Homo sapiens: one gene and its partners. Each later gene encodes a partner of the first gene's protein in a complex. Each region holds a gene or a part of one and is shown in the gene's direction. Other genes may lie near its edges.

Region 1 (3,500 bases):
GTGCTGGGATTACAAGCATGAGCCACCGCGCCCAGCCCATAAATATATTTTTACTTGTAAATGTATCTACTCCCTCCTTCAGTCATGCTCCTTGTTTTATATTTACATTTTCCCATGATAATCCTATACATTAAAATTGAATAAGTGCCCCACTTCGTGGCCCATATACTAAACATCTTTTTTTCATTTTTTTATATTTTAAAATTTGAATGAAATTTTTAAAATTGAATGAAATTTTATGTTTTCTGGCCTATATGGAAGAAATTAAAAACTGATTTGACTGCATGGCTTAATCTCGTATTCCACTAAAATGGAATTTTTTTTTAATTCATATCGTTTGAAGTTTCAAATGTGCATTTATTATTCTAAAATATACTTAAATGTTGAGGACTACCCTGAACATTTATGCTTGATGCTTTAATATTAAATAAAAGAACACTACTTATTTCAAATATAAAATACCTATTGAATTGGATATGATTTGATTACTGTTTGCTGTCTTTACAACTTAGTTTTGGAAATAACCAAACATAGGCAAGTCTTTGTTTTTCTCTTGTGACTATAAAATCCAGTCATTGAAAATTAGGTCAATGAGACCAGATGTGGTAGCTCATGCCTGTGTAATCCCAGCGGCACTTTGGGAGGCTGAGGGGGAGTATATTTTTCGAGGCCAGGAATTCAGGACCAGCCTGGGCAACATAATGAGACTCCCATCTCTTAAAAAAAAAAAAAAAAAGAAAGAAATTTAGGTCAATGAAACAACGTAGTATTGAACAATAAGAATGTAATTCACATTAGTATACTCTACTTAATGTAAATTAATATAGTCTAAATATGTTTCATTTTTATTGCCTTTCCTCTTCCCAAATTACTTTGCTTCCTAGAATGTCTAATTTAGGTAACCCTTTACGCCCCCACTCTTTTTTTCCCCTGAGACAGTTTCGCTCTATTGCCCAAGCTGGAGTGCAGTGGCGCAATCATGGCTCACTGCAGCCTCAACGTGGCAGGCTCCAGTGATTCTCCGACCTCAGCCTCCCAAGTAGCTGGAACCATAGGCATGTGCCACCACCCCCAGCTAATTTTTGTATTTTTGGTAGAGATGGGGTTTCACCATGTTGCCCAGGCTGGTCTCAACTCCTGAGCTCAAGCAGTCCACCCGCCTCAGCCCCCTAAAGTGCTGGGATTACAGGCGTGAGCTACCTCGCCCTACTCCCTCACTCTTTACAGCAATACATTATTTTTACTATTTTAGATTTCATTATTCCCATTGTATAAATTTTAGCAAATTATCTTAACTATACCTATTTACTTGTTTATGCTTAAATTTTTTTAATTGGTTATATAATCTTTACCCTTTTCCTTTTTCAGATTTATGGACAAGAAGTTATCATGTAAGTTTGTTGTTGTTTTGGGGTTTTTTTTAATTATTTAATTGCTTTTTACATGTGTCTTAGCAATGTTTGGAGCAACTTTATAAAAATTTAAAGCAGCCAGGCGCGATGGCTCACGGCTGTAATCCCAGCACTTTGGGAGGCCGAGGCAGGCGGATCGTGAGATCAGGAGATCAAGACCATCCTGGCTAACACGGTGAAACCCCGTCTCTACTAAAAATACAAAAAAAAATTAGCCGGGTGCAGTGGCGGGCGCCTGTAGTCCCAGTTACTCGGGAGGCTGAGTCAGGAGAATGGCATGAACCCAGGAGGCGGAGTTTGCAGTGAGCCAAGATGGCGGTACTGCACTCCAGCCTGGGCTATAGAGCTAGACTCCGTCTCAAAAAAAAAAAATTTAAAGCACACAGGACCTCTAATTCACATCCGTTAGTTAAGCAGATTACTTAATCCTAACTAGACAATTTTATTTACCTAATTTCTGATAATTAATTTAACAGCACTTCAGACTTTATCTTATGTAAGCCCTTCCTCACTTTGGCAAAATTAACAGGATTTATCAACCTTTTTTCTTTAAACAAGCTACAAAGGACTTAGACAAGGAACAGTTATCTTGTTTCTTGGGAATATGTAGGAATAACATTTGTTCAATTTATCTAAAAATCTGACCCACACAGTACTTGAAATATATGTAGGGGAAAAAACCATGAGCGTTAGAGGTAAGCAGCCTTCAGCTTGAATCTCACTTCTGTCGTACAGTAGCTGTATAACCATGAACCCAGTTACTTAAAAGCTCGGGCACGGTGGTTTACACCTATAATCCCCCAGCACTTTGGGAGGCCAAAGCGGGAGGATCCCTTGAGCCCAGGAGTTCGAGACCAGCCTGGGCAACATAGGGAGCCCCCATCTTTATAAAAATTTTAAAAAAGCTCTGAAGTTTAGTTCTGTCCTATAAAGTAAGGATAATACTACTTTTTAGGATTCTTATAAATTAAAATGTGGAAGTAAATACAAAAATGTTTAACCCAGTTCTTGTCATACAGTAAGGATAGTGGGTTTCAGACATCTCAAATACTTGTGTTTTATCCCACCTGATTTTTAGTGAATGCTTGGTAGCTAATGGAATGTTTTTCTAAAACTTCTTTTTCTCTTTTTAATAGTGAAATTAAATGGTGGCAGACATGTCCAAGGAATATTGCGGGGATTTGATCCCTTTATGAACCTTGTGATAGATGAATGTGTGGAGATGGCGACTAGTGGACAACAGAACAATATTGGAATGGTGGTAAGTAAAGATACAAGAGTTCTCTTGGAGATTTCATTTTTCTTTTGGAATGTGTATTAACTTTCCTGGTTAGTAACCCCCAGAAATGGCAAATAACAGGCAAGATTAGACTTTCCATCTCCTTTTTAGTTGCATACGGCAGTTACTCAGCTGTAGTAATATCCTGGTTACCTGTAGGTAAGATCTCAACTATACAGAACCTAAGGTCCTAGCGCTTGAAATAGCTGTTGGAAATCCTTTTTGAGCTTTATTCTGCAATAGAGGCTCATAGTTGGTCCTTCATTAGAGCAGTAGTTCTGAAACCTTAATGTGTATATGAATCCCCAGGGAATCTTCTTAAAATGAAGATTCTACTTCAGTAGGTATGGGGCAGAACTTAACTAAGGTTTTGCATTTCTACTAATGCCTAATGCAGATCTGCCAGTTCACAGGTAACACTTTCTGATTTTACTTGTATACATAGTTAACCTGGATTTTCTGGTTTACCACACCCAAAATTTTAAGGTAGCCAAGGTAAAAGTTACAAGGGATAATCACAATGACAGTTATTCACATGAGAGAAAAAGCAGGAAAAAATAAGCACATACTGAGCCCTCATAGGATTAAACATTCCTACATTCATTGGGCCGTAGTTTTAGTGATTGCTGAAGAAGAGTTTTGATACCCAGACTTTGAGTCCCTCTTTGTCTAACACAGGACAACATACCTAATAAAGCGGTAAGCCCAAAGTTCTTGAAAAAGGTGAACCAAAAAGGACAACTTACTTTTAGCAAATTATTAAGCATAAAGACCTCCAAGGAGTGGTAAGAGTTGCTAATTATTAGCCT
Region 2 (3,500 bases), on another chromosome or scaffold:
GTATCTTCCAGCCCACACCACCTGGGGCACGAAAGGTCAGTTGGAGAAACCCACACTCTTCACCCCTATGCTTCCCACAACTAGTAGTGAAAAAGCTGTGTGCCTGCCCCATGCAAGGTGAGTCCTGCGCACTGCTGCACACAGCTGAGGAGCAGCCAGTCCCTTGTTCCTGGGACTGAAGAGAGGAGAAATATGGTGTGAACCAAGAGAGAGCCAAATATGTGATCTGGAAAGTATGCACAGTAGATTCAGTGGAGAAGGGAAGTCCTTGATGTGCTAAGAGGTGGGATTTGATATGGACCTTTAAGAGAAATGTCTGAGGTCAGGTGCGGTGGCTCACGCCTGTAATCCCAGGACTTTCGGAGGCTGAGGTGGGCGGATCACTTGAGGTCAGTAGTTCGAAACCAGGCTGCCTAACGTGGTGAAACCCTGCCTCCACTGAAAATACAAAAATCAGCAGGGCATGGTGGCGTGCGCCTATAATCCCACCTGTTTAGGAGGCTGAGTCATGAGAATCGCTTGAACCCAGGAGGAGGAGGTTGCAGTGAGCTGAGATTGTGCCACTGCACTCCAGCCTGGGTGACAATGCGAGACTCCATCTCAAAAAAGAAAAATGGCTGAGAAGTCATCAGAGGAAGGCCCAAGGTATGTTTGAGGTCAGAGTGTGAGCTAGTAGGCTTAGTGGGAGGTTCATGTGGTGAAGGAGTAGGAGACAAGGCTAAAAACAATTTGGGGCTAAGATTAGGGAGGGCCTTTGATGACAGGAAAGTTTGGACTTTATTTATTTTTCTTTTTTGAGACAGAGTCTCGCTCTGTTGCCCAGGCTGGAGTGCAGTGGCAAGATCTCGGCTCACTGCAGCCTCCACCTCCCAGGCTCAAGTGATTCTTGTGCCTCAGCTTCCCAAGTAGCTGGGATTACAGGTGTGTACCACCACCCCAAGCTAATTTTTTTTTTTTTTTTTTTGAGATGGAGTCTCACTCTGTCGCCCAGGCTGGAGTGCAGTGGCACCAACTCTGCTCACTGCAACCTCTGCCTCACAGGTTCAAGCGATTCTCCTGTCTCAGCCCCCCAGTAGCTGGGATTACAGGTGCCCTCCACCACGCCTGGCCAATTTTTTGTATTTTTAGTAGAGATGAGGTTTCGCTATTTTGGCCAGGTTGGTCTCAAACTCCTGACCTCAGGTGATCTGCCCACCTTGGCCTCCCAAAGTGCTGGGATTATAGGCGTGAGCCACCATGCCTGGCCAACACCCAGCTAATTTTTAGTAGAGATGGGGTTTCGCCATGTTGGCCAGGCTGGTCTTGAACTCCTGGACTCAAGTGATCCGCCTGCCTTGGCCTCTCAAAGTGCTGGGTTACAGGCATGAGCCACTGTGCTTGGCGAAGTTTGGACTTTAGACAGCTGAGTAGCAGTCAAAGGATTTTGAGCAGAGATATAACTTTCATTCAACAAATATTTAATGAGTTCCTTCTGTGTGTCAGGTACACAGGGGTTGATGATACAGTGATGAACAAAACAAAGTCCTTAGCCTAACAAACTTGCACTTGTGGTCTATCGGGGAAGCAGTGGATGCATAAATACATATTGTCAATTTGTGGCCAGTGCTATGAAGAGATACAAGGCAGCATAGTAGGATGGAACTTGACTCTGTGGGGTGGGAGTGAGGACTGGCATGAAGGTATTTTCCTTGGGGTGTAGGGAGGGCCTCTTCAGTAAGGGGAAAGTGGAATAGAGACCCAAACCAGGTGAGGGAGGGAGCCAGGCTGATATCTGGGAGAAGAGTATGCCAGACAGAGGGAATAGCTGATGCAAATGATCCAGTGAGGAGTGCACTTACTTGGGCAGAGCAAAGCAGTGTGTGGGAGGAGTGAGGGAGGTGGTGGAGTGCTAGCAGATGAGGTCAGAAAGGCAGCTGGGGTAGGTGATCCAGGCTTTTAAGGGGCTTGGATTGAATTCTAGAGTAGGATAGGAAGCCACTGAAGGATGGGGAGTGATGTGACAGGTTTGTATTTTAAAAGGACCATCCTGGATGCCATGTGACAGAGGCTAGGAGCAGAAGCAGGGATACACGTTAGGAGGCTCTTACAGGAAGTGTTGTGTGAAGACGAAAGCGGTGATGGGGAGGATCGGGCAGGAACTTGAACACCCCCATTTCCCATCTCTGAAAAAAAAAAAAAACCCTAAATCCTCTTCTCCATTTCCTTTCCTCCTATGGCCCTGCTGACTCCCAGCCCCCACTTCCCTGTCCCCTGTCTTCTGGCCTTGTCCCCTGCTCCTGACCTTGGATACTACTAATTCCCTCAGCTCCTGCCCCTTACTGCAACTGCTTCACTACTCCTAACTTTCCAAGATTACTTTTTCTGGGTAACTAGGTAGGTGGGGTCACTGGGTGACCCCATATCCTATCACTCAGGTGGTTGTGGCAACGAACATTGCTGAGACATCACTCACCATTGAGGGCATCATTTATGTGCTGGATCCAGGGTTCTGTAAGCAGAAGAGCTACAACCCCCGCACAGGCATGGAATCGCTCACTGTCACACCCTGCAGCAAGGTCAGCCTGGGGATGCATGGGAGTGGGGGAGGTGGAGTTGGCCCACAGAGAAGGTCCAACTCAGAAGCAGGGTGGGGGCTTCCTAGGGAACCGGGATGAGCAGTTTGCATCCTTCCAGATTTCTTGCATAAATACTGCCTTTTTCTTTTCCCTGACCAAATTGTCAGCCAGCCTGTTCCCCTTTCTTTCCAGGCCTCAGCCAATCAGCGAGCTGGCAGGGCAGGTCGGGTGGCTGCAGGGAAGTGCTTCCGCCTGTATACCGCCTGGGCCTATCAGCACGAGCTTGAGGAAACCACAGTGCCTGAGATCCAGAGGACCAGCTTGGGCAATGTCGTGTTGCTGCTCAAGAGCTTAGGTGATTGGGCTACCTGAGAGAGGAGGGAGGGGCTGGAGTCACTGTCCTTTGAAGGGACTCTGTTCCATCCATCACACCTCTTTCTAGGGATCCATGACCTAATGCACTTTGATTTCCTGGACCCTCCACCATATGAGACACTGCTGCTGGCTTTGGAGCAGCTGTATGCTCTGGGAGCCCTCAACCACCTTGGGGAGCTCACCACGGTGAGTCGGGGGACAGCATGGGTGGAGGCAGGATGATAGGGGTCAGGATGGCTCCAGGGACCCCTGTAGTAGTAGCGGGAAACCTGAGGGAGGACTGGGCTCAACTCTCTCTCTCTTCTCCTTAGTCTGGTCGAAAGATGGCAGAGCTGCCGGTGGACCCCATGCTGTCCAAAATGATCTTAGCCTCTGAGAAGTAAGCCCTCGCCTCCACCTGGGCCCCCAGCACACAAACAGGCCAGGCCTCCTCTGTCTCCAGGGTCCCCTTTGTCTGTCTTTTTCTGTTCATCATACTATCCCTTAACACATAATAAAGTATTAGATAACTCTGATTGCCCCCTTTTGAGGCCCACAAGGGTAAGACACTTGATCCTATCCTTGATTCCA
Region 3 (3,500 bases), on another chromosome or scaffold:
AATACAATTAGCTGGGTGCGGTGGCACGCGCCTGTAATCCCAGCTACTCAGGAGGCTGAGGCAGGAGAATCGCTTGAACCGAGGAGGTGGAGGTTGAGGTGAGCCAAGATCACGCCATTGCACTCCAGCCTGGGCAACAAGAGTGAAACTCCGTCTCAAAATAAATAAAGAGTACCAGACCTGAGACTTAAACCCAGAGCAGTCAGAGTCTACAAGCTAGTCCCTTGGCCCTTTTCCTGCCCTTAGAGGAGTTCCAATTCCTAGGATTGTGGAGCGAAAGCGAGAAAGGAGTTTACTCCAAATTGCTCATTTTATCAATAAGGAAGCTGCGGTGCAGACAGCTGCCCCTCGTCTGGCTGTCGCAGGCCAGGATGAGAATGCAGGCTTCCTTCCGTCTGTCCCTGCAGCCACCACACTCACAGGTACCCTTCCATGCTGGCTTTGCTGTGGCAGCTCTGAGTGAGGTCTGCTCTTTGGCCCAGCACTTCTGCCTCCTCTCTGAGGGCTGGAAGCTGGATGCTATCCAAACAAATGGATTCGCTCACCCTGCACACTAAGGCCAATTACTGACAAAAATCGCAGTGAGAAAGTGAGGCTTTGTTTTTGTTTTTGGTTTTGGTTTTTTTGAGACAGATTCTCACTCCGTTGCCCAGGTTGGAGTGCAATGGTGCAATCTCGTCTCACTGCAACCTCCGCCTACCTGGTTCAAGCAATTCTCCTGCCTCAGCCTCCTGAGTAGCTGGGATTACAAGCACCCGCCACCACACCCAGCTAATTTTTGTATGTTTAGTAGAGACGGGGTTTCGACATGTTGGCCAGGCTGATCTCGAACTCCTCACCTCAGGTGATCCGCCCGCCTCGGCCTCCCAAAGTGCTGGGATTACAGGCGTGAGCCACTGTGCCCAGCCAAAAGTGAGGCCTTTATTGTGGGGCGACAAGCAAGAAGAATCCGGCAGCTCATGCTTAAGACCCAAATTCCCAGATGGCTTATGGTTAAGGGTGTTCAAAGGCAGGAGGCAGAGGTTACAGACAAAGTTTTAAATCAACACCAGGAGGCTATATATTGGTTTGGCCTAAGAAGGCAGGATGTCTCCAAGGGATGGGGCACAGATCATAGGTGGCTTCAAAGATTTTCTGATTTGTGAGTGGTTAAGGAGGTGAAGCTTTGTCTACAAATTTGGCATCAGCAAAAAAGAATGTTAGCTATAACCTGTGGGCATGTCCTCCAGGCCCCTCAGGGAGTCTAAAGAGTGGTCAGAGTGTAGTTTTCAGTTCCCCTTATCTGAGGTCTCAGTGCCAGGGGAATTGTTTGTTGAGGGTCCAGATTTCTGAAAAGCAACTCAAGGACAGATATTAAGATGTTATCTTTAGGCCGGGTGTGGTGGCTCACACCTGTAATCCCAGCACTTTGGGAGGCTGAGGCGGGTGGATCACTTGAGCTCAGGAGTTCAAGACCAGCCTGGCCAACATGGTGAAACCCCGTCTCTACTAAAAATACAAAATCTAGCTGGGTGTGGTGGCAGGAGCCTGTAATCCCAGCTACTCTGGAAGCTGAGGCAGGAGAATCGCTTGAACCCAGGAGGCAGGCAGAGGTTACAGTGAGCCAAGATCGTGCCACTGCACTCCAGCATGGGCGACAAAGCAAGACTGTCTCAAAAAAAAAAAAAAAACAAAGTTATCTTTAGTTTCTATGGGGAAACCAGACATCCCCTGATTCTGACTTCCTTGGCTATTGTTTTAAGCTAACTATTACCTTCTTGCTTATCGAGTTGCTCACTTGCTTCTCAGGGCTAGCTAGGTGCCTGGAATTTCATGAAGGGACTCAAGATTTTCCTTTATTTCCATGCTTGGGGGCCTGCAGGCCCCTAGAGAAGCCCCTGCTCTCTCTCCATGTCAGCCAGGGCTTCAGTCTGGCCTCAAGTGTTCCCATCAGCGGTGGCAGTGGAACTACAGTGGCAGCAACCACTTGCCAACAGGGGCCTGGCCTCACTCACCGTCGTCTCTGTGTGGCGGTCTCTTTCTCCTGTGGCTTCCTCTCAGTTGCCCGCCGTCGGCACCGCCACAGCCATGAGGAAGGATCCGGCTACAGCGACCGCGGAGAACACGCACGGGTTTTCAAGTCTCTGGCCTCTTTTGTGGCCTCTTGTGGATCTGCCCATTTAGAGCAATTGTAGAACTAGTTTATTGACCCTTTCTGTGCTTCTGGCTGCCTTTTCTGCCCAGGGTCCAGGGCTCCTGTTTGGGTGCTGTTGGGATAAAAGCTGCCTCTCCTGGATGCCCGCCCAGTGCACACCATGTGCTCGCCACACGCCCACCTGAACCAGCCTGTCCACAAGGCCTCTGAATCGGTCATGAACGGCAAGGCCGATGGTTCTAACCCCTTTGTACATATCGGGAACCCCCACCACCAAGTGAGGGCAAGTCCACTGCCTGGGGCTCCCGCTGTTAGTGATAACTGGAGCCAGGACTTCGCCCCTGTCATCCAGGATCCAAATTCTGTGCCCTGGGAACCCAGCTGGCACCAGGCTCAGACTCTAGTCCCTTGTTCTGGCCTCAAACTCCTGGGCTCAAGTGATCCTCCGACCCCAGCCTCCCAAAGTGCTAGGATTACAGGCATGAGCCACTGCACCCAGCCCCAGTGGCAGTTCCTCTATGACACTGGTACACTGGACTGTACACTGGTACACTGGTACACTGGACTGGTACACTGGACTATTCACAGGGGATTATTTGTTCTTGGGTTTTCCTTCAGTGTCTTGAAAATGGCTCCTTCAATTTCAAGTCTGAAGGACAGACAGTACATAGAGTAAGCTACCCTTTGTGTGAGAAGGCAGGGTGGAGATGAACACACCTCTGTGTATGCACTCACGCTGGCAAGACACAAAAGTGTAATAAGGAAATGGGTTAGTACGAGGCAGGGAACAAGGTAGAAGGGACCAGAATGGTGGTGAGACTTCTGAAAATACCCTGTGATACAGTTTTTTCTTTTTTTTTTTTTGAGACGGAGTTTCGCTCTGTCGCCCAGGCTGGAGTGCAGTGGCGCGATCTCGACTCACTGCAAGCTCCGCCTCCCGGGTTCACGCCATTCTCCTGCCTCAGCCTTCCCAGCAGCTGGGACTACAGGCACCCGCTACCACGCCCAGCTAATTTTTTTTGTATTTTTTTTTTTTTTTAGTAGAGACAGGGTTTCACCGTGTTAGCCAGGATGGTCTCGATTTCCTGACCTTGTGATCCGCCTGCCTCGGCCCTCTCAAAGTGCTAGGATTACAGGCGTGAGCCACCACGCCCAGCCTGCTGTGAAGACTTTGACCCTGGGCTGCTTCAGCTCAGCATGGGCGAGTCCCCAGATGTAGCTGTATTTTGAGCTGCCCTTGCCGAGGGCCTGCCCAGCCACCAGGTGCCAGGTGCCAGCTAAGCACTTGTCAGAAGCATCACCTCGTTTTGTTTTGTTTTTGAGATGGAGTCTCGCCCTGTTGACCAGGCTGGAGTGCAGTGGCATG
Region 4 (3,500 bases), on another chromosome or scaffold:
TTCCCAAAGTGCTGGGGTTACGCGCATGAGCCAGCACACCTGGCCCTGTACTTATCTGTACAGTCCTTTAAATAATATGTACATTTAGGCCAGATGCGGTGGCTCATACCTGTAATCCCAGCACTTTGGGAAGTCGAGGCGGGTGGATGCCTGAGGTCACGAGTTTGAGACTAGCTTGGCCAACATGGTGAAACTCCATCTCTACTAAAAATACAAAAATTAGCCAGATGTTGTGTTGTGCGCCTGTAATCCTAGCTGCTCAGGAGCCTGAGGCTGGAGAATCACATGAACCCGGGAGGCGGACGTTGTAGTGAGCTGAGATCAGGCCACTGCACTCCAGCCTGGGCGACAGACTGAGACTCCATCTCAAAAAAAAAAAAAAAGTACATTTAAAATATTGATACCTGTTACCTCATTATCCTTTAGAAAGATGGGATCAATTGTATTCTCTTCCCAAAAGCGTCTTCCACATTTATTTTTTTGAGATGGGGGTCTCACTCTGTTGTCCAGGCTGTAGTGCAGTGGCACCACCATAGCTCACTCAGCCTCCTGAATAGCTGGGGCTATATGCCACCATGCCCAGCTAATTTTTTAATTATTTGGAGAGGCAGAGTCTCACTGTGTTGCCGAGGCTAGTCTGAAACTCTTGGGCTCAAGCAGTCCTGCCACCTTGGCCTCCCAAAGTGCTGGAATTACAGGTGTGTGCCACTGTGTCTGGCTGTCTTCCACATTTCTATGTGAGATAATTTTTTCATGGGTTACACGTTGACAGGGCAGGGAATGGTGAGGAGAGGGACTTAAGGGCCTTTGCGTTTTAGAACACAGGTTTCCATTTGTAGCACTGGCAATGCAAGTGATATTGATGTGTATAGATTGGGGCCACAGAGCAAGACAAGTACGGTAATCACTATCAGTCTTAGGCAATTTGGTGTGATGACTTGTTTTTGATTCTCCTCTTTTCTCCTTCCTGGGCCTTTTACATGGGAAGCCTAACTGTTGTGTTATAACCCTAGGCCCTAAAGTACCTTTATTTTTTTTATTTTATTTTGTTTTTGAGACAGAGTCTTGCCCTGTCGCCCAGGCTGGAGTGCAATGGCGTGATCTCGGCTCACCGCAACCTCTGCCTCCCGGGTTCAAGTGATTCTCCTGCCTCAGCCTCCCTGGTAGCTGGGATTACAGGCATGCGCCACAACGCCTGGCTCATTTTTTGTATCTTCAGTAGAGACAGGGTTTCACCATGTTGGCCAGGCTGGTCTCCCAACTCCTGACCTCGTGATCTGCCCACCCCAGCCTCCCAAAGTACTGGGATTACAAGTGTGAGCCACTGCACCCGGCCGTAGTAACATTTCTTTTCTTTTTCTTTTTTCTTTTTTTTATTGAGACGAGTCTCGCTCTGGTCGAGTCTACGCCAGGCTGGAGTGCAGTGGTGCTGTAACCTCCGACTCCCTGGTTCAAGTGATTATCCTGCCTCAGCCTCCCGAGTAGCTGGGATTATATGCATGCACCACCACGCCCAGCTAATTTTTGTATTTTTAGTAGAGAAGGGGTTTCACCACGTTGGCCAGGATGGTCTCAATCTCCTGACCTTGTGATCTGCCCACCTCGGCCTCCCAAAGTACTGTGATTACAGGTGTGAGCCACTGCGCCCAGCCTTCTTTTTTTTCTATTTATTTATTTATTTTTGTTTGAGATGGGGTCTCACTCTGTCACCCAGGTTGGAGTGCAGTGGCATGATCTCGGGTCACTGCAACCTCTGCTGCCTGGGTTCAAGTGATTCTCCTGCCTCAGTCTCCCAAGTAGCTGGGATTACAAGTGCCTGCCACCATACCTGGCTAATTTTTGTATTTTTAGTAGACATCGGGTTTCACCATCTTCGTCAGGCTGGTCTTGAACTCCTGACCTCGTGATCCACCTGCCTCGGCCTCCCAAAGTGCTGGGATTACAGACGTGAGCCACTGCACCCGGCCTTTTTATATTATTTTTAAAATTTTTCATAGAGACAGAGTCTCGGCCGTGTTGCCCAGGCTGGTCTTGAACTCCTGGACTCAAGTGATCCTCCCACCTCAGCCTCTCAAAGTGCAGTGACTACAGGTGTGAGCCAATATGTGTGTGGCTTTAAAGTGACTTTTCTGTTGGGATGAGAAAGAAGATCTTTCTCCTTTTTTTTCCTTGAGACAGGGTCTCACTCTGTTGCCCTGGCTGGAGTGCGGTGGCGCGATCTTGGCTCACTGCAACCTCTGCCTCCTGGGTTCAAGTGATTCTTCCACCTCAGCCTCCCGAATAGCTGGGATTACCGGTGCATGCCACCACTCCCAGCTAATTTTTTGTATTTTTAGTAGGGATGGGGTTTCACCATGTTGGCCAGGCTGGCCTCAAACTCCTGACCTCAAGTGATCCTCCTGCCTCAGCCTCCCAAAGTGCTGGGATCACAGGTGTGAGCCACCACGCCTGGCCAAAAGTTCTTTCTCTTATGTTTGTTGTCAGACCACTTTTGTGCTATGTATCTCCCCCTCCTTAAGGGACTTAATAAAATGACACCACTTTGTACAATTCCCAAATGTTATTTCACTGCTGGAGATGGTGGGGTGCTGTCAAATGTTTTTCAGCAGCTAGCAATATGGTGAGAACATTACTGAGGCAGTGGGTTTCAGATACTGGGTGTTTGTTTTTGTTTTTGTTATTAGGCAGAGACTCACCCTCTGTCTCAAAAAAAATAATGATTGCCTAGTACTAGTTCATTTAAATTAATTTCCTAGAGCATATTTAAGTGGGTCTTTTTTTTTTTTTTTTTTTTTTGAGACAGATCCTTACTCTGTCACCGAGGCTGGAATGCAGTGGCATGATCTTGGCTCACTGCAACCTCTACCTCCTGTGTTCAAATGATTCTCGTGCCTCAGCCTCCTGTATACCTGGGACTACAGGCATGCACCACACACAGCTAATTTTTGTATTTTTATATTTTATTTTTAAATTTTTTTTTTCCTCCTGGGTTCAAGTGATTCTCGTGCCTCACCTCCTGAGTAGCTGGGATTACAGGTGCACACCACAATGCCCAGCTAATTTTTGTATTTTTTTTTTTTTGAGACGGAGTCTTGCTTTGTCACCCAGGCTGGAGTGTAGTGGTGTGATCTCCGCTCACTGCAAGCTCTGCCTCCCAGTTCACGCCATTTTTCTACCTCAGCCTCCCAAGTAGCTGGGACTACAGGTGCCCGCCACCATGCCCGGCTAATTTTTTGTATTTTTAGTAGAGACGGGGTTTCACCGTGTTAGCCAGGATGGTCTCGATCTCCTGACCTCGTGATCCACCCGCCTCGGCCTCCCAAAGTGCTGAGATTATAGGCGTGAGCCACCACGCCCGGCCAATTTTTGTATTTTTAGTAGAGATGGGGATTCGCCGTGTTGGCCAGGCTGGTCTTGAAGTCCTGGCCTCAAGTGATCCGCCCACCTTGGCCTCCTAAAGTTCTGGGATTATAGGCATGAGCCACCGCACATGGCCTAGA

What was found. Proteins that work in one complex are often made in the same cells at the same time.
Region 2: SNRPG (region 1) and DHX16 share a complex: the UniProt entries of both Homo sapiens proteins name them as parts of the minor spliceosome.
Region 3: SNRPG (region 1) and ARMC7 share a complex: the UniProt entries of both Homo sapiens proteins name them as parts of the minor spliceosome.
Region 4: SNRPG (region 1) and LSM2 share a complex: the UniProt entries of both Homo sapiens proteins name them as parts of the U4/U6-U5 tri-snRNP complex.

What each region holds. Positions count from the first base shown.
Region 1 is NC_000002.12:70,287,241-70,290,740, reverse strand, and holds part of SNRPG (small nuclear ribonucleoprotein G), read left to right. Parts: intron 1-1,368; coding exon 1,369-1,391; intron 1,392-2,548; coding exon 2,549-2,673; intron 2,674-3,369; coding exon of another isoform or gene 3,370-3,480; exon of another isoform or gene 3,481-3,500. UniProt on the Homo sapiens protein: Plays a role in pre-mRNA splicing as a core component of the spliceosomal U1, U2, U4 and U5 small nuclear ribonucleoproteins (snRNPs), the building blocks of the spliceosome.
Region 2 is NC_000006.12:30,656,007-30,659,506, reverse strand, and holds part of DHX16 (pre-mRNA-splicing factor ATP-dependent RNA helicase DHX16), read left to right. Parts: coding exon 1-35; intron 36-2,414; coding exon 2,415-2,555; intron 2,556-2,747; coding exon 2,748-2,910; intron 2,911-2,997; coding exon 2,998-3,116; intron 3,117-3,241; coding exon 3,242-3,309; intron 3,310-3,500. UniProt on the Homo sapiens protein: Required for pre-mRNA splicing as a component of the spliceosome. Contributes to pre-mRNA splicing after spliceosome formation and prior to the first transesterification reaction.
Region 3 is NC_000017.11:75,116,469-75,119,968, forward strand, and holds part of ARMC7 (armadillo repeat-containing protein 7), read left to right. Parts: intron 1-3,500. UniProt on the Homo sapiens protein: As a component of the minor spliceosome, involved in the splicing of U12-type introns in pre-mRNAs.
Region 4 is NC_000006.12:31,800,467-31,803,966, reverse strand, and holds part of LSM2 (U6 snRNA-associated Sm-like protein LSm2), read left to right. Parts: intron 1-3,500. UniProt on the Homo sapiens protein: Plays a role in pre-mRNA splicing as component of the U4/U6-U5 tri-snRNP complex that is involved in spliceosome assembly, and as component of the precatalytic spliceosome (spliceosome B complex).